Regions from separate parts of the Homo sapiens genome. Here all the other regions are linked to region 3. The links come from fine-mapping of genetic effects on gene expression. A gene starts in region 3. Each other region holds a variant in brackets. All regions are shown on one strand. Distances are from middle to middle.

Region 1 (8,180 bases), 77 kb before region 3:
CAGGGTTTCACCATGTTGGCCAGGCTGGTCTCAAAGTCCTGACCTCAAGTAATCCGCCCTCCTTGGCCTCCCAAACTGCTGGGATCACAAGCGAGAGCCACCATACCCAGCCGCCCGGCTAATTTCTTTTTTCTTTTTTTTGAGGCAGAGTCTCACTCTGTTGCCCAAGCTGGAGTGCCGTGGCACAATCTCGGCTCACTGCAACCTCTGCCTCCCAGGTTCAAGTGATTCTTCTGCCTCAGCCTCCCAAGGAGCTAAGGCCACAGGCACAGGCCACCACACCCATCTAATTTTTTTTTTTTTTAATATTTTTTGAGATGGAGTTTTGTTCTTGTTGCCCAGGCTGGAGTGCAATGGTGTGACCTTGGCTCACTGCAACCTCTGCCTCCTGGGTTCAAGCGATTCTCCTGCCTCAGCCTCCCGAGTAGCTGGGATGGCAGCCATCACCACGCCCAGCTAATTTTTTCTATTTTTTAGTAGAAACAGGGTTTTACCATGTTGGCCAGGCTGGTCTCAAACTCCTTTCCTCAGATGATCTGCCCACCTCGGCCTCTCGCAAAGTGCTGGGATGACAGGCGTGAGCCACTGCAACAGGCCTAATTTTTGTATTTTTAGTAGAGATGGGGTTTCATCATGTTGGCCAGGCTGGTCTCAAACTCCTGACCTCAAGTGATCCACCTTGGCCTCCCAAAGTGTTGGGATTACAGGCGTGAGCCACTGTGCCTGGCCTCACCTGGCTAATTTCTTTTTAAAATTTTTTCGTAGCGATAGGGCCTCCCTTTGTTGCCTAGGGTGGACTTGAACTCCTGGGCTCAAGCGATCCTCCTGCCTTGGCCTCCCAAATTGCTGGGATTACAGGCATGAGTAGTGGCCATTCCTTTACCTGGTAGGTACCAGGTAGTTCTACAAGTTTTGATACCAGGTAGTTCTACAAGTTTATGATACAGTATAACATTTAATATTCCTAACAGTCCTGAAACAGTGGTTCTCAAACTGTGCTGCACATGGCTGGGCACAGTGGCTCATGCCTGTAATCCTAGCACTTTGGGAGGCGGAGGTGGGTGGATCATTTGAAGTTAGGAGTTTGAGAGCAGCCTGGCCAACATAGGGAAATCCAGTATCTACTAAAAATACAAAAATTAGCCGGGCGTGGTGGCATGTGCCTGTAGTCCTACCTACTCGGGAGACTGAGGCAGGAGAATCACTTGAACCCGGGAGGCAGAGGTTGCAGTGAGCCGAAATTGCACCACTGCACTCCAACCTGGGCAACAGAGCAAGACTCTTGTCTTAAAAAAAAAAAAAAAAAATTTTGCTGCACATTAAAGTCACCTAGGGACCTTTAAAAAATCCCAACATCAGGCCAGGCGCAGTGACTCACGCCTGTAATCCCAGCATTTTGGGAGGCCAAGGCGGGTGGATCACCTGAGGTCAAGAGTTCCAGACCAGCCTGGCCAAACTGGTGAAACCCCGTCTCTACTAAAAAATACAAAAATTAGCTGGGCATGGTGGCAGGTACCTGTAATTCCAGCTACTCGGGAAGCTGAGGCAGGAGAATCACTTGAACCTGGGAGGCAGAGGTTGCAGTGAGCTGAGATTGCGCCACTGCACTCCAGCCTGGGCGACAGAGCGAGACTCCGTCTCAAAAAAATAAAAAATCCCAACATCAGGCTGGGTGCAGTGGCTCATACCTGTAATCTCAGCACTTTGGGAGGCCGAGGCAGGTGGATCACTGGAGGCCAGGAGTTCCAGACCAGTCTGGGTAACATGCTGAATCCTTGTCTCTACTAAAAAAATACAAAAATTAGCTGGGCATAGTGGTGCACACCTGTAGTCTCAGTTACTCAGAAGGCTGAGGCAGGATAATTGCTTGAACCCAGGAGATGGAGGTTGCACTGAGTCGAGATCATGCCACTGCACTCCAGCCTGGGTGACAGAACGAGACTCTGTCTCTTAAAAAAAAAAACACCAAAAACCCAACATCAGGGCTTTACCCCAAACCACTTAAATCAGAATCTCAGCAGAAGGGAAATGTGAAGGTGAAGATGGCAGTGGCCAGGGCCAGGGTCCTGGGAGTCCAGTGGATGCAAAGGGCATCCCAGAAAGTGGTGCCGCTGGGCGCAAGGACAGCCTCCCGCATAACCAATGACATGCTCTCAGGGTCCTATCCTAGGACGCCAAAAGGACAGGCCACTGCCCTCAAGAAGTATAACATGTGTGTGGGAGACTACGAGCCTTACCCGGATGATGACATGGGGTATGGCGACTACCCAAAGCTCCCTGCATGAGAGGGATCCATGGTATAGCTGGGACCAGCTGGACCTGAGATTGAACTGGGGTGAACCGATGCACTGGCAGCTAGACATGTATACCAGGAATATGTCCCCCACACCTGTTTCTTGGAATGTCATGTGTATGCAGCTGTTCGGCTTCATGGCTCTCATGATATTCATGTTCTGGGTGGGGGATATGTACCCTGTCTACCAGCCCGTGGGACCAAAGCAGTATCCTTACAATAATCTGTACCTGGAACGAGGCGGTGATCCCTCCAAAGAACCTGAGTCGGTGGTTCACTACTAGATCTGAGGAGGCTTCGTGGGCTTTTGTGCCCTCTAACTAGGATTCCCTCATTCCTAGAAATTTAACCTTAATGAAATCCCTAATAAAACTCAGTGCTGTGGTTAAAAAAACAAAACAAAACAAAACAAAAATCAGAATCTCTCAAAGTGAGCCCTAGGCATCAGGACTTTTCCAAAGAACCTCAGGAAATTCTAATGTGCAGCAAAGTTTGGGAACTACTGTCTTGTAGTATTCTCTATCATTGAGATATCTGCCAGATATGGACATTACATTGGTAAGTTAGTTTGCAGCATGACAGTGAGAAGATGGAAAACCCTGCTGAAAGATATCCTTCATTTCAACATTACCTGTACCTTAAGTACAGACATAGGCATGGAATGAAAGTTTCTTCTGGGTAAAATAAAATTCTAAATCTAAAACAGCAATTTCAAGATTATGTGCTTGGTATATCAACTATACAGTTCTAACTTTGCTATCTATTAATTGACTGTGTAGCTGTCACTAAACTGAAAATCACAAGAAATTATTCTTACCCATATGCCCAGTTGTTTCCAGAACCTTGTTTTTGACAGAAGCATGCATGTTGACCATATTTCCATTGGCCAGACTGGGCAGCCTTTGACAGCATTTGATTGATAACTTTGGGTTCCATGTCAACAAGAACAGCCCGGGCAATTGGAACTAGAGGGGGAAAAAAACCCAAAAACATCGAAAGAAAAAAAGATTTATTATGTCTTATTTGGGTAACTCAGAGCATCTAAGTGTCCAAATCCAAAAAAAAAAAAAAAATTCCAGGGGTTGTGGTTAGAAAGATCTGTCGTACTGCTTAGAAATCTCAGTGGGCAGCAGCAGGCATATGCAGATGTTCACCAAGCCCAGCATTTGCTAAGCAGGCTGAATCAGTGTGGGCCTAAAAGAGTACCTGGGTCAGATTAGCCGGCGTGGTGGCATGTGCCTGTAATTCCAGCTACTCGGGAGGCTGAGGCAGGAGAACTGCTTGAACCTGGAAGGCGGAGGTTGCACTGAGCCAAGGTTGCACCACTGCACTCCAGCCTGGGAGACAGAGTGAGATTCTGTCTCAAAAAAAAAAAAAAAAAAAAAAAAAAGAGTACCTGGGTCAGGTCTACAAACATATGCTGAATGCTTATGATGTGCCATGGACTGTGCTGGGAATTTGGAGATGAAGACATCAAACTAGCCTTAGAAAGGGCAGGTGGGAGGCTGGGCGTGGTGGCTCATGCCTGTAATCCCAGCATTTTGGGAGGCTGAGGCAGGTGGATCACTTGAGGCCAGGAGTTGGAGACCAGCCTGGCCAACATGGTGAAATCCCGATCCTACTAAAAATACAAAATTGGCCAGGTGCGGTGGCTCACACCTGTAATCCCAGCACTTTGGGAGGCCGAGGCGGGCGGATCATCTGAGGTCAGGAGTTCAAGACCAAACTGGCCAACATGGTGAAAACCCATCTCTACTAAAAATACAAAAAATTAGCTGGGCGTGGTGGCAGGCTCCTGTAATCCCAGCTACTCCGGAGGCTGAGGCAGGAGAATTGCTTGATCCCGGGAGGTGGAGGTTGCAGTGAGCCAAGATTGAGCCATTGCACTCCAGCCTGAGCAATAAAAGCAAAACACTGTCTCAAAACAAACAAACAAACAAAAAACAAAAATACAAAATTAGCAAGACTTGGTGGCGTGTGCCTGTAATCTCAGCTACTCAGGAGGCTGAGGCACGAGAATTGCTTGAACCCAGGAGGCAGAGGTTGCAATGAGCTGCAATCACACCACTGTGCTCCAGCTTGGGCAAGAGTGAGACTCTGTCTCAAAAAAAAAAAAAGACTTGTGGGAAAGATAAATACATCAATACTTAATCACACTGCAACGTGATATGACCAAATAAATCCACACCAAAGGAACATCATATTTAGAGGTACAAAGTACCATGGGTACAACATCCAGCTCAGAATTGTTGGAGCAGAGGATGGAGAAGGAGAGGGTAGAAGTGATGGATGGGGATGAAAAGCAGGTAGGGCTCAATCTTGGAAATCTTTATAGGCAATGCTAGAAAAGCCTGAACTTTATCTTTTAGGCCATGATTAACCACCAAAAATTTTCAAGCAGGCGAGGAATAGTTAAATGTCTGTCAATCATAATTCACTGCAGCCTCAAACTCTTGAGCTCAAGCAATCCTCCCACTTTGGCCTTCTAAGTAGCTGGGACTTCAGGTGTGTGCCATTACACCTAACTAATTTTTATTGTTTTTTTTTCTAGAGACAGAATCTTGCTCTATTGCCCAGGCTGGTCTTGAATTCCTGGCCTCAAGCAATCCTCCCACCTTGGTCTCCCAAAACACTGGAATTACAGTGAGACACTGTGCCCAGCTGTTAGATGT[CT/C]TTTTTTTTTTTTTGAGATGGAGTCTCGCTCTGTCCCGCAGGCTGGAGTGCAGTGGTGCGATCTCAGCTCACTGCAAGCTCCGCCTCCTGGGTTCACGCCATTCTCCTGCCTCAGCATCCCAAGTAGCTGGGACTACAGGCACCCGCCACCACGCCTGGCTAATTTTTTTGTATTTTTAGTAGAGACGGGATTTTACTGTGTTAGCCAGGATGGTCTCGATCTCCTGACCTCATGATTCGCCCGCCTCGACCTCCCAAAGTGCTGGGATTATAGGCATGAGCCACTGCACCCGGCCGATGTCTTTTTAAACACAGCAGTACGGAGGATGGATGTGATAGACAGTAGACTCCAGGCAAGGAATCCTAAAAGGAGTGTCTTGAGACAGTCCAGGTAAGAAAGAACAAAAGCCAGACTAAAGCAAGTCAGTGAAGGTGGAAAGGGAAGAACAGTTTCAAGGAGTATATAGGAGGTCAAATAAGCAGATCTTGTTTGATGGTATGTATGCAGCAAGAGCACAAGGAACAATAATGAATGCCTTGGGAATAGAGATGTTGAGTTTCAGGTTCATATGAGAGATGTGGGTGGAGATATCCACTAATCTGTCTAGAGCTTTTAAGAGAGGCTGGGCTAGAGGTCTGAAAGTCACAGGTGTAATAAATGTAGCAAACTATGACAGTGAAGTTGCCCAGAGAGAACTATGCAAGTGAGGACAGGGGAGATGCAACAACTGGAGAAGAAAAGTGGGGTGACTAGGAGAAGGAGGTTCAAGGAGAGAGTTGTTTTTTGTCTTTTTTTTTTCTTTTTTGAGACGGAGTTTCGCTCTTGTCACCTAGGCTGGAGTACAATGGCACACTCTCCGACTCCCGGGTTCAAGCGATTCTCCTGCCTCAGCCTCCCAAGTAGCTGGGATTACAGGCACGCACCACTACGCTCGGCTAATTTTTGTATTTTTAGTACAGATGGGGTTTCACCACGTTGGCCAGGCTGGTCTCGAACTCCTGACCTCAGGTGATTCACCCACCTCGGCCTCCCAAAGTGTTGGGATTACAGGGATGAGCCACCATGCCTGGCTTTTTTTTTTTTTTTTTTTTTTTGAGACGGCATCTCGCTCTATTTCCCAGGCTGGAGTGCAGTGGCGAGATCTCGGCTCACTGCAACCCCCCTCCCGGGTTCAAGTGATTCTCCTGCCTCACCCTCCCGAATAACTGGGATTACAGGTATGTGCCACCATGTCCGGCTAATTTTTGTATTTTTAGTCGAGACGGGGTTTTACCCTGTTGGCCAGGCTGGTCTCTAACTCCTGACCTCAAGTGATCTGCCTGCCTTGGCCTCCCAAAGTGCTGGGATTATAGGCGTGAGCCACTGCGCCCTGCTGGAAAGAGTTTTTATACGTTACTGTTATCAAACGCAGTAGAGGAGTAAAGTGAATTAAGAAAAGAAAGAGAGGCTGGGCACAGTGGCTCACGCCTGTAATCCCAGCACTTTGGGAAGCTGAGGTGGGCAGATCATTTGAGGTCAGGAGTTCGAGACCAGCCTGACCAACATGGTAAAACCCCATCTCTACTAAAAATACAAAAAAATTAGTTGGGCGTGGTGGCGCATGCCTGTAGTCCCAGCTACTCATGAGGCTGAGGCAGGAGAATTGCTTCAACCTGGTAGTCGGAGGTTGCAGTGAGCCAAGATCGCACCACTGCACTCCAGTCTGGGTGACAGAGCTAGACTCTGTCTCAAAAAAAAAAAAAAAAAAAGAAAAAGAAAAAGAAAGAGAGCCTGTAATCCCATCACTTTGGGAGGCCAAGGCAGGCGGATCACTTGAGATCAGGCATTCGAGACCAGCCTGGCCAACATGGCAAAACCCTGTCTCTACTAAAAATACAAAAATTAGCCAGACATGGTCGTGGGCACCTGTAATTCCAGCTACTTGGGAGGCTGAGGCAGGAGAATTGCTTGAACACGGGAGGTGGAGGTTACAGTGAGCCAAGATCACATCACTGCACTTCAGCCCGGGTGACAGAGCGAGACTCTCTCAAAAAAAAAAAAAAAAAAAAGAGAGACAGAGAAAAGAAAGAGCCAGGCATGGTGGCATGCACCTGCAGTCCCAGCTACTCAGGAGACCTGTGAATAGCCACCGCACTCCAGCTTGGGCAACATAGTGTAGTAAGAACCTGTCTCTACAAGAAAAAGAAAAAAAGAAAAGAAAAACAGTAGTTGGATCTGGTGATTCGGAGGTCACTGGAAACTTTTCTTAGAGCAGCTTCAATGATGCTATGTGGGGCAGAAGCAGGATCATAGGTGGTTAAGCAGGGTCCTTTTATTTTTTTTGGAGATGGAGTCTCGCTCTGTCACCAGGCTGGAGGGCAGTGGTGCGGTCTCGGCTCACTGCAACCTCTGCCTCCTGGGTTCAAGTGATTCTCCTGCCTCAGCCTCCCGAGTAGCTGGGATTACAGGCACATGCCACCACGCCCAGCTAATTTTTGTATTTTTAGTAGAGATGGGGTTTCACCATGTTGGTCAGGCTGGTCTTGAACTCCTGACCTTGTGATCCACTCGCCTCGGCCTCTCAAAGTGCTGGGATTACAGGCGTGAGCCACCACGCCCAGCCAGCAGGGTCCTCTTTTGAGAATCTTAGATGAAAGGCAAAGAGATAAGAAGAAGAAAGCCAGTCAATAGATGAGTTTTGTTTGGTTGGTTTTAAATTGGTGAGATCTGAGCATGCAGAAGGGAAAATGCCACTGGAAAAGCAAAGATTATTAACATAGAAATGAAAAGCAAAAACAAAGTAATTCCCTAGTGAGATGGGAAGGAATGGGGTTTAAAAACCATGTGGAAGGCCTGGCTTTGAAGGGGTTGGTTAGATCAGAGTAAAGGAGAGGACTGTGGGCCACACCTACCTCCATTCTCCTCCTCACTGAAGAATCTTTCTTTGCAAGATGCTTGATATGCCTCATTCTCTCTCATAGAGCAGAGTCCCTGGGAACTGTGTGAGTCACTAAGCAAAGCATCAAAAACTTCAAAACCAATCTGATTGCCACACTGACCAAGTTGCACTGTTACAATTGACATGCTGAGCCACAAACTAGGTGTATTACCTCTAAAAACAACCTGTAATCGAAAAAAATACGCTTTGAGAACCACTACATTACTAATAAGAACAAATAAAATGCCATGTATGTTAATTATACATCAATAAAAAGTCTTTTTTCCCCCCTGAGA
Region 2 (8,180 bases), 91 kb before region 3:
GGCAGCGGTTGCAGTGAGCCAAGATCGCGCCACTGCACTCCAGCCTGGGTGACAGAGCAAGATTCTGTCCCCCCCGCCAAAAAAAAAAAAGAAAAAAGAAAAAATGTTGACACCCTAAAAGTTCCACATGGGAACTCAGCAAACTGTGGTTTATTGACCTAAGAGAGCTCAGAGCAGCATGTCTCACATGACTCTAAGGAACATTGTGTTCCTTGTGGTATTAACAGGTATTGCTCGAAAAACAGGTACTATGGCCAAAAAATTCAGGAAGCACTATTTTTACATGTAAACTTTCTACTTATCTCCAAACCTCTGGCACTATAATCTAAAATCCGTAAGATATTACAAATAAATGTTGAGAAAATCTACTCTCATAGTATAAAAGCCTAACTTAATTTGTGGTATAATATATGCTATTAATACCTAGTAGTGATTTCTAGTTACACATGACAGACTGAGCATATCAGTTTCCTGCCACTCTCTCTCCAGATCCTGCTTAATCACTAAAAGGATAAGCACAAACAAGAAAAAAAGGAACAGGAGAGAATATAACAGCAACAAAATTTTGGAGCTGGAGAGCAAATGGTTACTGACTGCACAACAAGAAAAAGCTAAAAATTTTGCCCACAATTGAGGTCCTGGAAGTAGACCAGACACTTTTCAAAGTGAAAAAAAGGCTGGGCACGGTGGCTTATATCTGTAATCCCAGCACTTTGGGAATTTGAGGCATGTGGATCACTTGAGGTCAGGAGTTCAAGACCAGCCTGGCCAACATGATACAACCCCATCTCTACTAAAAATACAAAAATTAGCTAGGTGTGGTAGTACACATTCATACATTGGTAATCCCAGCTACTTGGAATTCCGACTAAGGTGGGAGGATCACCTGAACCTGGGAGGTGGAGGTTGCAGTGAGCCAAGATGATGCCACTGCATCATCTTAGGCGACAGAGTGTGACTCCATCTCACAAAAAAAAAAAAAAAAAAAAAAAAAAAAAAAAAAATCAAAGTGTAAAAATACAGGAGGATTAACTAAAAATCTATTTGAGAAGCAGTGAGAGCCCCTTCCCCACTCCCTGCAGTAGGAGGAGTGCGCTCTTCCACCCTAGAAGGTTTCTGCTGTGAAAAGGCTAAACCTGGGAGGCTCTGGCCTCAGTGACACCTGGCACAGCCCTGTAGAGAACCTTTGGAAAACCAGGTCACGAAGTAGCAGCTTTCGCAGGAAAGTGTAACAGTCCATGTCTTCCCCGTCCAGCTCTGAAAAGGCTGGCAGCCAGGCTTATCATGCCTTCAGGAAAGAGATGGAGGAGGAAGCAACTGATCAAGAGATAAGATACGCTGAGTATGATATTTGGAAGTCCAGCAATAAAATGGCCAGGCAGATCACCTTACTGTGAAACCCACACAAGTCTGCAATGTCCGTAAGGGTCCATTCAGTGCCCGGAGCAACTAACTCAGCAAATAATCACTGAGCGTTTACCGTTCCAGGCTCCAAAGATGCAACAGTAAACCAAATAGATTAAATAAAGCTTACCTTCTACTGAGATAAACCAAAGACCCATGTCAAGTACTTTCAGAATGCTGGGGACAAAGAGAAAATCCTAAAAGCTTCAAGAGATAACAAAATAGGATTGGGAATCAGAACAACCTGAGACTTCTCAACAGCAACGCTGCAAGTGAGAAGATGATAGAGCAATGGCTTCGAAATACTCAGTAAAAAGAAAATGATTCCCAACCTAGAATCCTATCCCTGGCCAAACTATCATTCAAATGCAATGGCAGAACAGAATTATGATATTTATTTATTTTTGAGACAGGGTCTCGCTCTGTCGCCGAGGCTGGAGTGCAGTGACACGATCTCAGCTCACTGCAACTTCCCTCTGCCTCCCAAGTTCAAGCAATTCTCCTGCCTTAGCCTCCTGAGTAGCTGGGACTACAGGCGCCCGCCACCATGCCTGGCTAATTTTTTGTATTTTTAGTAGAGACGGGGTTTCACCATGTTAGCAAGGATGGTCTCGATCTCTGACCTCATGTTTCACCTGCCTTGGCCTCCCAAAGTGCTGGGATTACAGGTGTGAGCCACTGCACCCGGCCAGAATGAAGATATTTGTAGCCTCAAACATTTTAATTTCCTTGTACTCTCTTAGGGAGCTCCTGAAAGGTATGGTCCATCAATATGAGGGAATAAATCAAGAAAGCAGATTTGAAATCTAGGAGGTACAGATATAAATCAGGATGAGGCAAGCAGAGATGCCAGGGCTGGCTGCTTATCAAGCCTAGAGAGCAGTCAGTCCAGAATGGAATGGGAAGATAAATGCCTTCCAGAAGATGTCTCTAGGCAGATAATGGAAGTAATCACTTACCTGATGGGTTTAAACATATTAAGAAAGAATTCTTTTTTTTTATTTTTGAGACAGGGTTTTGCTCTGTTGCCCAGGCTGGAGTGCAGTGGCATGATCACAGCTCATTTTAAACTCAAATCCCTTGGTTCAAGGGATTCTCCTGCCTCACCCTCCCAAGTAGCTAGGACTACAGGTGCATACCACTATGCCCAGCATTTTTTTTTTTGAGACAGAGTCTCGCTCTGTTGCCCAGGCTGGAGAGCAGGGGTGTGATCTCAGCTCGCTGCAACCTCTGCCTCCTGAGTTCAAGCCACTCTCCTGCCTCAGCCTCTTGGGTAGCTGGGATTACAAGTGTGTGCCATCACGCCTCGCTAATTTTTTGTATTTTTAGTAGAGATGGGGTTTCTACTACATCCGTGTTAGCCAGGATGGTCTCGATCTTCTGAACTTGTCCGCCTCGGCCTCCCAAAGTGCTGGCTCACAGGCGTGAGCCACCCTGCCGGGCCAGCTAATTTTTTTAAATTATTTTTTTAGAGATGGGGTCTTGCTTTGTTGCTCAAGCTAGTTTTGAACTTCTGGCCTCAAGCGATCCTCCTGCCTTAGCCTCCCAAAGTGCTGAGATTACAGGTGTGAGCCATCACATCTGAGAAGGGATTCATTTTTTTACAGAAAAGTTTCAGGATAAGTTGGTAATAGGTACAGAAAATATCAACTGAATAAATATAATGATTAACAACTCCAGGAGGGAAAAATAAACTGTACACACAAAAAAATATAATCTATGTACACAAGGCTCTACTCTGAATAATATTTAGATAGCAAAAGTAGTACAAACATTGAAAACTGATCTAACTCCCAAGTATGTTAGAAGAATGAAGGTAATTGTGTTTGTATGTGTGAGTATGTGTGTGAGTGTGCACATGTGTCAGTATATATATGAAAATGGGAATGTGTGTGTGTGTGTGTGTGTGTGTGTGTGTGTGTCTGTGTGTGTAGAGGGGGTGTAAGATGATTCAATTCTCAATTTTTTTTTTTTTTGAGATGGAGTTTCACTGTTATCACCCAGGCTGGAATGCAATGGCACTATCATAGCTCACTGTAACCTCTGCCTCCCGGGTTCAAGCAATTCTCCTGCCTCAGCTTCCCAGGAATTACAGGCGACTGCCACCACGCCCGGCTAATTTTTTTGTATTTTTTAGTAAAGAAGGGGTTTCGCCATGTTGCCCAGGCTGGTCTCGAACTCCTGACCTCAGGTGATCCACCCACCTCAACCTCCCAAAGTGCTGGGATTACAGGCGTGAGCTACTGCGCCCAGGCCAATTCTCAATTTTCACACTAGGAATGCAAGAGATAACAATATAAGTAAGACATTTATAACTATGGAGGCAAATTGTAGATGAAATAGCTAGACGTTGAAAGTAGTTTCATCTGTGTAATGGGGAGGTGTAGGATTGCTGTTTTTCCTTGTCATAAATTCATACCAGACATTACTTAAGTTGTTTTTTGTTGTTGTT[T/G]TTTTTTTGAGAAAGGGTCTCACTCTGTCACCCAGGCTGAAGTGCAGTTGTGTGATCACAGCTCACTGCAGCCTTGACCTCCTGGGCTCAGGTGATCCTCCCACCTCAGCCTCCTAAGTTGCTGGGAATACAGGCCCATGTCACCATGTCCAGATAATTTTTTATATTTCTTGTAGAGATGGGGTTTTGCCATGTTGCCCAGACTGGTCTCGAACTCCTGGGCTCAAGCGCTTCTCCTGCCTTGGCCTCCCAAAGTGCTAGGATTATAGGTATGAGCCACCATACCTGGCCCATTACTTGACCTTTTAAAAAACTGAGATATAGGCCGGGCGCAGTGGCTCATACCTGTAATCCCAGCACTTTGGGAGGTCGAGGTGGGTGGATCACAAGGTCAGGAGTTCGAGACCAGCCTGGCCAATATGGTGAAACCTCATCTCTACTAAAAATACAAAAAAATTAGCCAGGCATGGTAGCACACGCCTGTAATCCCAGCTCCTTGGGAGGCTGAGGCAGAAGAACTGCTTGAATCCGGGAGGCAGAGGTTGCAGTGAGCCGAGATCGCGCCACTGCACTCCAGCCTGGGTGACAGAGCGAGATTCCATCTCAAAAAAATAAAATAAATAAAAAATAAAATACTGAGATATAATTGGCCGGGCACGGTGGCTCACTCTTGTAATCCCAGCACTTTGGGAGGCCAAGACGGGTGGATCACGAGGTCAGGAGATTGAGACCATCCTGGCTAACACGGTGAAACCCCGTCTCTACTAAAAATACAAAAAATTAGCCGGGCGTGGTGGCAGGCGCCTGTAGTCCCAGCTACTCGGCAGGCTGAGGCAGGAGAATGGTGTGAACCCGGGAGGCGGAGGTTGCAGTGAGCTGAGATCACGCCACTGCACTCCAGCCTGGGCGACAGAGCAAGACTCAGTCTCAAAAAAAAAAAAAAAAAAAAATTGAGATATAATTTAAATACAGTGCAATGTATGGATTTAAGTATATATTTAAATGAGTTTTGGCTACTTGATTTTTAAAACTATGTTCACTTATTTGATTAAAATAAAAATTTAAAAAAAATCTGGCACTCATTTGAAATGTCTTTTGGTAATGAAACTGTGAAGTGATTAAGAAACCCTCCTAAGATGTCCTGGTGAGTTTCTGCCGGAGTCTCTCTAGCCAGAAAAAGGGACCATTATTTAAACTGGTCCAAGCCAGTTTATATTGAGACTCCAGGACAGACATTTTTTCCAGCTTGTGGGCTGCATATTTTTGGACTACTCTTTACCTTCTTCCATCTTTGCATTAGAAATGAGCATCTGTCTCAAATGCTTGAGGAGGCCAGCCCAAGTAAATGTGGTGTATGCCAATGAATTCTCAGACATGTGAGGAATGTTACGAACACTCAGCATCTTGAATTCAGGATGGGGAACTAAATGCTCCATTAAGTCTCCTGTAAAGAAAAAAAAATCTGAACTAATTTTTTTTTATTCTACATTGTTGCCAATAGTCTATATATAACCATGATTTGAAGGTTTTCTGGGCCAAATGTTTTTTCTCTTCTCAGACCAGAATTATTTAATCTTTAATATAAATACAATTTCAGAGACAATGTCTATTACACACCACCTCTTTGCTTCATTTTAGCACTGACTTGAGCATGAGTGAGAAAATACACTTTGCCAAAAAGCAAACTACAATTTAGAAGCTGAATAACTGGAAATGTGAATGAAATATTTAGGTAAACTCCAGGCAAACAAAGTAAACATGAGAACTGATATGCTTTTCTTGTCATTCTATGTTCACTAAATATTGTTATATTCTTTTTTTTTTTTTTTTTTTTTGGGATGGAGTCTTGTTCTGTCGCCAGGCTGGAGGAGTGCAGTGGCGTGATCTCGGCTCACTGCAACCTCTGCCTCCCACGATCAAGCGATTCCCGTCTCAGCCTCCTGAGTAGCTGAGACTACAGGCACGTACCACCAAGCCCAGCTAACTTTTTGTACTTTAGTAGAGATGAGGTTTCACCATGGTGGCCAGGATGGTCTCGATCCCCTGATCTCATGATCTGCCTGCCTTGGCCTCCCAAAGTACTGGGATTACAGGTGTGAGCCACCGCACCCACCCTACTAAATACTCTTTTAGAAATGTTACTAGATTTTTACATACCGTATCTGGTTAGGTGATAATCAAACCCTGTTAACATGAAAGTTAATATAAGCCAGGCACGGTGGCTCACGCCTGTAATCCCAGCACTTTCGGAGGCCTAGGTGGGCAGATCATGAGGTCAGGAGTTTAAGACCAGCCTGGCCAACATGGTCTTGGTCTTAATAGAAACACTGTTTCTATTAAAAATATGAAAATTAGCCAGGCGTTGTGGCAGGCACCTGTAATCCCAGCTACTTGGGAGGCTGAGGCGGGAGAATCGCTTGAACCCGGCAGACAGAGGTTGCAGTGCATCGCACTCCAGCCTGGGCGACAAAGCAAGACTCTGTCTCAAAAAAAAAAAAAAGTTAACATGAAACTCTATTTGGAAAGAAGACAAGATTAGATATTCCTTAAGATAGGAATGTGCCTATCTTTAGAAACTTGTATTTACAATGAAATAGAATTAAGGAGAAAGGGTACTTTCCTTTACATTTACAGCTGTCTCATATGTTTATAGAAAATACCTTGAGGATAGGGAAAAATATATTACCATAATATGAAACAAACTTTATAACACTGAGTACAAACTCATAATGTACATCCTAAAGAAAAGAACAAATTTTGACACAAACATCTATAAGATGCTACACAGGCGGGCTTGTGCTAATGGAGTGTCCTCTAAATGTAGAATTCTTTTCTGTAAAATACCTAGAGTTGAATTCTATTGCATAGCACAAGTAAATATAGAATAGTCAGAAAATAATTCATGAGCACTAAGGCATGAATTCTTTTTTTTTTCTTTTTAGACAGTGTTTTGTTCTGTTGTCCAAACTGGTGTGCAGTGGCGCAATCAAAGCTCTGCAACCTCGAACTCCCAGGCTTAAGCAATAGCCCCACTTCAGCTTCCCTAGTAGCTGAGATTATAGGTGCACACCACCATGCCTAACTGTTTGTTTTTTTTTTGTTTTTTTTTTTTTGAGATGGAGTTTCGCTCTTATTGCTCAGGCTGGAGTGCATTGCATGACCTCAGCTCACTGCAACCTCTGCCTCCCAGGTTCAAGCAATTCTCCTGCCTCTGCCTCCCAAGTAGCTGGGATTACAGGCATGTGCCACCATGCCTGGCTAATTTTGTATTTTTTTTAGTAGAGACAGTGTTTCGCCATGTTACTTAGGCTAGTCTCGAACTCCCAACCTCAGGTGATCTGTCCGTCTTGGCCTCCCAAAGTGCTGGGATTACAGGCATGAGCCACCACACCCGGCCACTTTTTAAATTCTTAGTAGAGATGAGGTCTTGCTATGCTGCTCAGGCTGGCTTCGAACTCCTGGCCTCAAGCGATCTTCCCACCCTGGCCTCCTAAAGCACTGGGATTACAGAAGTGAGCCATGGTGCCCGGCCAATGCATGAATCACTAATTGTTGCAATCTGTTCTCCCTTCCAGCTTTCTTGTTCAGCTACTCTTACCTTAACCATTCTTTTTTTTTTTTTTAAATGGAGTCTCGCTGTCGCCCAGGCAGGAGTGCAGTGGTGCAATCTTAGCTGACTGCAACGTCTGCCTTATGGGTTCAAGCAATTCTCCTGCCTGTCTTCTGAGTAGCTGGGATTACAGGTACCCACCACCATGCCTGGCTAATTTTTGTATTTTCTGTAGAGCTGGGGTTTCACCGTATTGGCCAGGCTGGTCTCAAACTTCTGACCTCAGGTGATCCACCCTCCTCAGCCTCCCAACGTGCTGGGATACAGGCGTGAGCCACCACGCCTGGCCACCTTGACCATTCTTAAACCTCCTTGAGACTTTAATCCATGGAGCACCTGCCTTTCAATCAATCAGTCTTCCTCTTTCTGGCAAAATCCCAGTCTTCGGCCAACCCTGCTCCTCACCTTCTCTGTCAGAGCACAACTACGGAAAGTCATGCCACATGGCAGACTCGGACCTCTTTGAATTCCCAATCACCAAACACAATGCTGACGCGCACATTGACAACTCTGGATGAGATGGGAAACCTCAGGAAGGTTCTGAAAAGGGGAGCAACAGGATCTGACTTATGCTTTTAAAAACTGCAAAGCCAGAGTTCAGTCTGGCTGCTGTACTTAAGAAAAGGCTAGGGCCGGGTGCGGTGGCTCACGCCTGTAATCCCAACACTTTGGAAGGCCGAGGCGGGTGGATCATTTGAGACCAGCCTGGCCAAC
Region 3 (8,180 bases):
AAAAGAAAATTAAATTAAATTAAAAAAAAAAAAAAGAAGCCAGGTCTTCTACAAGCTGACATAAAGGACCCACCCAGGACGGGGGCAGTGGCTCACACTTGTAATCCCAGCACTTTGGGAGGCCAAGGTCGGCGGATCGCTTGAGGTCAGGAGTTTGTGACCAGCCTGCCCAACATGGTGAAACCTGTCTCTACTAAAAAAAGTACAAAAGTTAGCCAGGCGCCGTGGCACGTGCCTGTAATCCCAGCTACTCAGGAGGCTGAGGCACGAGAATCACTTGAACCCAGGAGGCAGAGGTTGCAGTGAGCCAAGATCACGCCACTGCACTCCAGCCCGGGTGACAGAGCAAAACACCGTCTCAGAAAAAAAATGGACCCACCCACAAAAGAAAATTTCAAAATGCATTTTAACCTTGACTCACTTGTCAAGGTTTATATTTTTTAAATTCTCAGATTATAAGAATTTAATAAATTAATGTTTTAATCTCACTTTTTTAATATATGGGGTCTCGACACATTGCTCAGAATTCCTAGGCTCAAGCATTCTTCCCAACTCAGCCTCCCAAGTAGTTGTAATCTCCCTTTTTTTTTTTTTACTTTTTTGAGACTGGGTCTCACTCTTTCACCCAGACTGGAGTGCAGTGGCATGATCACAACTCACTGCAGCCCCAACCACCTGGGGTCAGGCAATCCTCCCACCTCAGCCTCCCAGATAGCAGAGATTACAGGCACGTGCCACCACGCCCAGCTAATTTTTTGTATTTTTTGTAGAGATGGGGTTTTGCCATGTTGCCCAGGCTCGTCTTCAATTCCTGGGCTCAAGCAATCTGCCCATCTCAGCCTCCCAAAGTGCTGAGATTACAGGCATGAGCCACTGTGCCTTGCCTGTAATCTCACTTTTAAAGTCAAGTTTAATGAAGTTTTACTAATTTTAAATCATTAAGATTTTTCTAGTTTGATAGGTTTAACTATAAATTTCCAGGTCAGAATGCATGATACTTTACACAGACATAGCCATTTAAAGTTGCCTTAAGGTGAAATTTTAGAAACTCATCCTCTTTTTCCCAATGATTTATATGACGGGCTCGTGTAACTTATGTTATGGAAAAATTCCTTGGGTTTCATTTTCTCTCTTTTTTTTTTTGAGATGGAGTCTCACTCTGTCGCCAGGCTGGAGTGCAGTGGCACAATCTTGGCTCACTGCAACCTCTGCCTCCCGGGTTCAAGCAATTCTCCTGCCTCAGCCTCCCAAGTAGCTGGGACTACAGGCAAGCGCCACCACGCCCAGCTAATTTTTGTGTTTTTAGTAGACATGGGGTTTCACCACATTGGCCAGGCTGGTCTCAAACTTCTGACCTCAGGTGATCTGCCTGCCTGGGCCTCCCAGAGTGTTGGGATGACAGGCGTGAGCCCCTGTGCCTGGCCCAGGTCTTTTTTTTTTTTTTTTTTTTTGAGATGGAGTCTCGTTCTGTAGCCCACGCTGGAGTGCAGTGGTGCGATCTCAGCTCACTGCAACCTCCACCTCCCAGGTTCAAGTGATTCTCCTGCCTCAGCCTCCCGAGTAGCTGGGAATACAGGCACATGCCACCACACCTAGCTAATTTTTTGTATTTTTAGTAGAGACAGGGTTTCACCGTGTTAGCCAGGATGGTCTCAATCTCCTGACCTCATGATCTGCCCGCCTCGGCCTCCCAAAGTGCTGGGATTACAGGTGTGAGCCACCATGCCCAGCCACTAAAAGTTTTTCATGATGATGGTCTTACTTACTATGGTCAAAGTAACTGATACAACATGAAGGGACTTGCCAAATCAGATCAGATACCGTGTTCTAACTCTTTTAATCCTTTTTACTACTTTAACAGTAACCAATTTTTTTTTCTTACAAAGAAGGTAAGGTGAAGGAATTCAGCATTAGGAGAGATAATTTATTCCAGGATTTAGATAACAAATTTAACATAACGTGGATGTTACAATATATCCTATTACTTCCTATTTCTTTCAAGTTATTTCCTATTTCTCTCAAAATTATTTCTCTAAAATCTATGGAGAGAAACAGTTAATAATTTTTTAGTTGCTTGTTATACTTACTCTTAGAAAAACCTGATTTACAATGCTTTTGTTTGCATACATAAAAGTTGTTAGCAGCCCAATTCCAAGAGAAATTCCTGTTAGAAAATAAGTTCCAGTTAATTGAAAGAAAAAAAAATCAAAGAGGATTATATAAGCTAACAATGACACAAATTAAAAATAAACATATACAATAATAAAAGCTCACAGAAAATAAGTAACTGGATGCATTAAGTAGATTACCAATAATGAAAGAAAATTAACTGAATTTAGGAATGAAAACAAGTCAATGTTTTATTATGTCCTACCTGTTATATGCTGCATAACAAGTTTGACGCTCAGAATCAAAATATATGGAAGACTTTTTTGCAGCCACTTGAAGAGATAGCGGAATTCTGAGAAGGAGCTACTACCATGATCTCCAGATTCTGCGGCAGTATCATCAGTCAGCCTTGCTTCACTGTGGGAGTGACCCCGTAAGCGACTGTGTACACATCCATGGGCACAGCTATGGACACCTGACCTTATATTTCTGGAGCTTGCATTTTCTGCACATTCTTTAGGTATGGAGTTTATCTGGATATGAACATCTCCAGAATGAGGGCAAGAACCCTCTCCTGTCAATCTTGTGTGGACACACTGAGGGGTTGAGGCATCCTCACTGCTTCCAGTTCCTGGAGGACTGTGCAGTTGGCTACGATTGGCTTGCATGGCCCTTAAATACTTTTTCTCTGACCCAGATGTCTTTGCTTCAGGCCTCTGTCTCCTAAAAAATCAAATAAAAGATATTCTAAGTAAACAGGCAGTTAAATACCAGCAGTATATTCCTCACTGGGTATCCTTTATTCACTAAAGGAGTAGCAAATAATCACAACAGATGAATTTTCAGGTTATTTATCACTGGACTCCTCCCTTCTCCCTTAATGCCAAGGCTCTGCTGCCCTACACAAATGATCTTTTAGGGAACATTTGCACCAAAAAAAAAAAAGTTGAGCTGCAAATGCTTCCAGTTCTCTAATGGCAGAAGGCATCCGCAAAACAGTCATGAAGTATGGGTACCCAGCAGATGTTAATGAGCACCAGTCCTCACTGGGTACTCTGGTACATTTACTTTTCCCAAATGGTGCAGTTTCATCTCTGATGTAGATTCTACATCAAAGAAGTTTCATAAGGAAGAGTGAGCCAGTATTTTTTAATGGTTGGAAATGTTAGGAAAAAAAACAACATTAAATCTTAATGCCTTATTATCATCATAGGTAACTAATAATAAACACTGCACTTAGGTGACCTACAAATTAGATTTTCTGCTCAAGCAGCTTTCCCAAAGCTCATAAAGTTTCCAATAATTAATGGTGCCACCAATAATATTACCTCCCCGCGCAAAAGAATGTTACCTAAATACATTTAAAGCATAGATACTTTGGAGAGTCACCACGTAATTGCTAGGTAACTCTTTAGTCTGAATAAGCAGTTACACAGTCCGCCCAATAAAATGCCACCGTCGGTGGTGTGTGTATTACGGAGGGAGGGGTGTGAGGAAAGAGGACTCTAGCAGAGAAAGATCTCTCTAATAAATGATCCAGTGTGGACCTCCTAGAAACAGAAGAACAGAGTCGGAATCCCAGCTGACAAAACGCAGAGGCTATCCCACACTGCCGTGCTTTTCCCGTTTGTCTAGGAGGAGGCTAGAGTTAACGTCAGGGAATGTTCTGTGTCATTCTATTTCACTCCCAGGACTGAACAGTGGTGCAGTCACCGTGTCTGGCGGTTTGGGTTTCAGTGCTTTTCACTAAAGGCTTTCACCGAGGCCCCGACGCCACGGGTGTTATTTCGTCAAAACTGAAGAGCGACGTTGGACAGCAGGCTTTCAGTGTCTTTTCTATAAATAACATAGAACCCTCCCACTTTCCTTCATGCACAGACAAGAAAGAGGAGAAAAAAGGGAAGAAAATTCAACACAACTCTTCCGGAATCTCCGAGGGCAGAGTTCTCCACCCACGTCCGAGCCTCGAGTGCCTATTCTCCCCAGAGCCCCCTGCGCCGCGGCCCCTCGCCGCCTCCTCCTCTGCCCGCTTCCCCCAGGCCTAACCTCTCATGACCAGAAGCGGACGGAGGTGTCGGGAGCGACAGCAAGAACAGCGGCATACACCGCCTCCAGCCCTTCAGTCGGGGCCATCAACCGCAAACCCCGCAAGCTCTTCTCTCAGCCCGGCGGCAACGGCGGCGGCGCGCGCGCTCCCCGGACGTTCTCACGCGCGCGCGCGCGCCCTGCCCCGGCTCCACCTCCTAGCCCCGCCCCCGCACCGCGCCGAGTGGAGAGCTCACGGCTGCCGGGGTGTTTTGGCAGCGAGAACAAGCGAGCTGCGCCTGAGAACGGCCTTCAGGCCTGGCGCTAAATAATAAGTCGTTGTTATGTGTTATGTATTTATGTGGCATCCACCACACGCCTCCGAGATCCTGGGCGTTTTGAGGTTAAAAATGTTCAGGCTTGGAGAACCTACCCCTGGAGGAGTGTTAGGGTTTCCGGGCTCGGATGTCCGCGAGCTTGACGCCTGACCTAGTTGTGTCTGTCTGGGCGGTGACGTTTGGTCTGAGCTGACCTTTCCTCACAATCGTGAATTTGGGCTGTGAGGATCAGGCCTTGTCAGAACCCGAGATGAGAGGAGAGAGGTGCGGAGAGTCTGCGTGGGGTGGAAGTAGAAGTTAGAGTTGAAAAACCTGTCTTGCGTGGGGTATAGAGGACCCTACTGCCCTCAAAATAATTATGTTAATCTAAAACTGTTCTAAAATTAAAAGGTTATTAAGAAAACGAAGTTTAGGTCGGGCGCAGTGGCTCACACCTGTAATCCCAGTATTTTGGGAGGCCGAGGCGGGCGGGTCACTTGAGCTCAGGAGGTAGAGACCAGCCTGGCCAACATGGTGAAACCCGTCTCTATTAAAACTACAAAAATTAGCCGGGGGCGTTGGCTCACACTTGTAATCCCCGCTACAGATACTCGGGAAGCTGAGGCATACGAGAATCACTTGAACCCGGGAGGTGGAGTTTGTAGTGAGCCAAGATCGTGCCACTGCACTCCAGCCTGGGCAACAGAGTGAGTGAGACTCGGTCTCAAAAAATAAATAAATAAAATAAATTCTGTTAATCTAAAACTGTTCTAAAATTAAAAGGTCATTAAGAAAACGAAGCTGAGGAGGGGAGTGGTAGCTCACACCTGTAATCCCAGCACTTTGGGAGGCCAAGGCGGGTGGATCACAAGGTCAAGAGATCGTGGCCACATCCTGGCCAATATGGTGAAACCCCGTCTCTACTAAAAATACAAAAATTAGCCGGGTGTGGTGGTGCGTGCCTGTAATCTCAGCTACTCGGGAAGCTGAGGCAGGAGAATCGCTTGAACCCGGGAGGCGGAGGTTGCAGTGAGCCGGGATTAGCCACTGCACTCCAGCCTGGCAACAGAGCGACACTCCGTCTAAAAAAAAAAAGGTTTAGGCCTGGCGTGGTGGCTCACCCCTGTAATCCCAGCGCTTTGGAAGGCCGAGGCGGGAGGATCACTTGAGGTCAGGAGTTTGAGACCAGCCTGGCCAACATGGCGAAACCCTGTCTCTACTAAAAATACAAAAATCACCCGGGCTTGGTGGCGGGCGCCTGTAATCCCAGCTACTCGGGAGGCTGAGGCAGGAGAATCCCTTGAACCCAGGTGGCGGAGGTTGCAGTGAGCTGAAATCGTGCCACTGCACTCCAGCCTGGGCGGCAGAAGGAGACCCCCACCTCAAAAAAAAACACATTGGCTTTCTTTTTTTGTTGGGGGTGGGGGTAGGGGTGGTCGGCGGTGGTAGAAGGCATACTTAAGTCTCTCTGTGCTTACTAATTTAAATCTTTCTGACAGATTTCTGGTTCAGTAAGGGTGAGAGCCAGGCTCCAGACTATAGTGAATTTTCCGAGGAGATATGTGTAAGTATTCTAACATTTCAACTATGTCGTGGATATTTTTAAACTTCAAAATGTGTGAACATTTAGGAAACAGGAAAAAAAACAGAATATAACATAATTCAGCCACAGCCACAATGCAGCACCAATATGTATTAGTACACTGATAATTTTAGTACATTTGGTACATTTGTAAATTTAGAATACCAAATGTAGTGTTTAAATTCTCATCTTGGCCAGATACTACGGTTCATTCCTATAATCCTAGCACTTTGGGAGGCTGAGGTGAAAAGGTCGCTTGAGCCCAAGAGATCGAGAGCAGACTGGACAACATAGAGAGACCCTGTCTCTAGAAAAAAATGTTAAAATTAGCTGGGCACTGTGGCAAGGGCCTGTAGTCCCAGCTACTCAGGAGGCTGAGGTGGGAGAATCCCTTGAGCCAGGGAGATTAAGGCTGCAATGAGCCGTTATTGCTCCAGTCTGGGAACAGAGTGAGACCCTGTCTCAAAAAAAAAAAAAAAAAAATTCTCCTTTTGACATACTCATAACACTGCAGGTATATTAGTCCATATTTAAAGTTTATTAGTGCACTTGGAGCTGCATTTCACCCAAGTAACTTGACTGAAAAGTGACATATTTGAAGAAAGAAAGGACTGAATTGATGAGAAGATTTGACTTGGTGACAGGCTATTATCTGATAAATTTTCTTTCCACTGGCATCTGGACTGTTGGAAATAGACATTTTAATTTTAATTGGTTAATTCAAAAAGCATTTTCCAAGTACTTACTGAGTGTTAAGAATAATACTAGATGTTGGAGAGAGAGACATAATAAAGAGTCTCGGGCCAGGCATGATGGCTCACACCTGTAATCTCAGCACTTTGGGAGGCCACAGCAGGTAGATCACTTGAGGTCAGCAGTTCAAGACCAACCTGGCCAACATGGTGAAACTCCATTTCTGCTAAAAACATAAAAATTAGGGCCAAGCACAATGGCTCACGCCTGTAATCCCAGCACTTTGGGAGGGTGAGGCAGGCGGATCACCTGAGGTCAGGAGTTCAAGACCAGGCTGGCCAACATGGTGGAACCCCGTCTCTACTAAAAATACAAAAATTATCGAGGTATGGTGGCACGCGCCTGTAATGCAGTTACTCAGGAGGCTGAGGCAGGAGAATTGCTTCAACCTGAGGCAGAGGTTGCAGTGAGCCAATATCATGCCACTGCACTCCATCCTGGGCAACAGAGCAAGACTCCATCTCAGAAAAAAAAGAAAAAGAAAAGTTGCCATCTCATGGTGATGGAAATGTTTAGACCTGCAAACAAATAATTACAGTATTTTGGAGAAAACACTATAATTGAAGGTTCTGTGAGATGCAATGGAAGCAAAAGGTAGAAGCATTTAACTTTGTCAGGGAAGAAATCTTTTATTAAATTTGTGATATTTAAGATGAAATCTTTTTTTTTCTTTCTTCTTTTGATAGAGTTTTGCTCTGTTGCCCAGGGTGGAGTACAGTGGCGCAATCTTGGCTCACTGCAACCTCTGCCTCCTGGGTTCAAGTGATTCTAGTGCCTCAGCCTCCTGGATGAAATCTTAAGAATAAGTTGATATTTACCAGGACAGAAGCAGTAACAGGGCAATGCAGATAGAAACATTATATGGAAAATGGTGGTATTGAAATACCATGGTCTTTTAAAGAGTGTTTTTCGTATTTGGAAGAGTAGAGTGGATAGAGTAGTAAGAGATAAGTCAGGTAAGTATGAGCTAGAAAATGAGTTTGTGGGCCTCACTTAGTTTATTCTAATGGCCAAAAGGAAGCTATTGAGTTTTAAGCAACAGAATTGTGTGACTGGATTTGTGTTTTTCAGAAAATTCATATGCTGATAGTAGCAGTGCAAGCTCCATTAGGAGACTATTATAAGTAGTTCAGGAACAAGATGAGGTCTTGAACTTGTCAGTGAAGTGGGATTCAAGAAGAAGAATGAGATTGGAGAGGTTATGAAATAGAATCAGTAGGGTTAAGTGTCCTAGATTGTTGCAGTTAAGCTCGTCACCCCCTCTACTACCCACACAAATTTTTCACACCTACCAATGTCCATATGCTTGGGTAGTCTCCTCGCAGACTGATTTAAGTGATTTGCTTTGATCCTTGGGACAATAGCAATTGTAATGTTAATAGAGACTTGAAAAA

Evidence for each region.
Region 1: its variant is fine-mapped to the expression of RNFT1 in whole blood (INTERVAL, PIP above 0.99).
Region 2: its variant is fine-mapped to the expression of RNFT1 in blood mononuclear cells (TOPMed, PIP above 0.99).

Annotation. Positions count from the first base shown.
Region 1 is chr17:59,882,973-59,891,152 of GRCh38, forward strand. It overlaps TUBD1 (tubulin delta 1), which reads right to left. Exons shown (of 9, transcript NM_016261.4): 2 at 7,859-8,069; 3 at 3,111-3,258. The coding sequence starts at 8,030. It also overlaps the pseudogene NDUFB8P2. Among named protein-coding and RNA genes, the nearest start is that of TUBD1, 5.9 kb to the right of the region's middle. The variant CT/C (reference allele first, on the strand shown) is at 4,966.
Region 2 is chr17:59,869,404-59,877,583 of GRCh38, forward strand. It overlaps TUBD1 (tubulin delta 1), which reads right to left. Exons shown (of 9, transcript NM_016261.4): 6 at 5,136-5,300. Among named protein-coding and RNA genes, the nearest start is that of TUBD1, 19 kb to the right of the region's middle. The variant T/G (reference allele first, on the strand shown) is at 3,857.
Region 3 is chr17:59,960,453-59,968,632 of GRCh38, forward strand. It overlaps RNFT1 (ring finger protein, transmembrane 1), which reads right to left and starts at 4,288. Exons shown (of 9, transcript NM_016125.4): 1 at 4,156-4,288; 2 at 2,375-2,832; 3 at 2,088-2,164. The coding sequence starts at 4,211. It overlaps RNFT1-DT (RNFT1 divergent transcript), which reads left to right and starts at 4,644. Exons shown (of 4, transcript NR_110815.1): 1 at 4,644-4,736; 2 at 5,951-6,015. It also overlaps the pseudogene TBC1D3P1-DHX40P1. RefSeq lists a silencer at 4,229-4,358 and an enhancer at 4,389-4,658.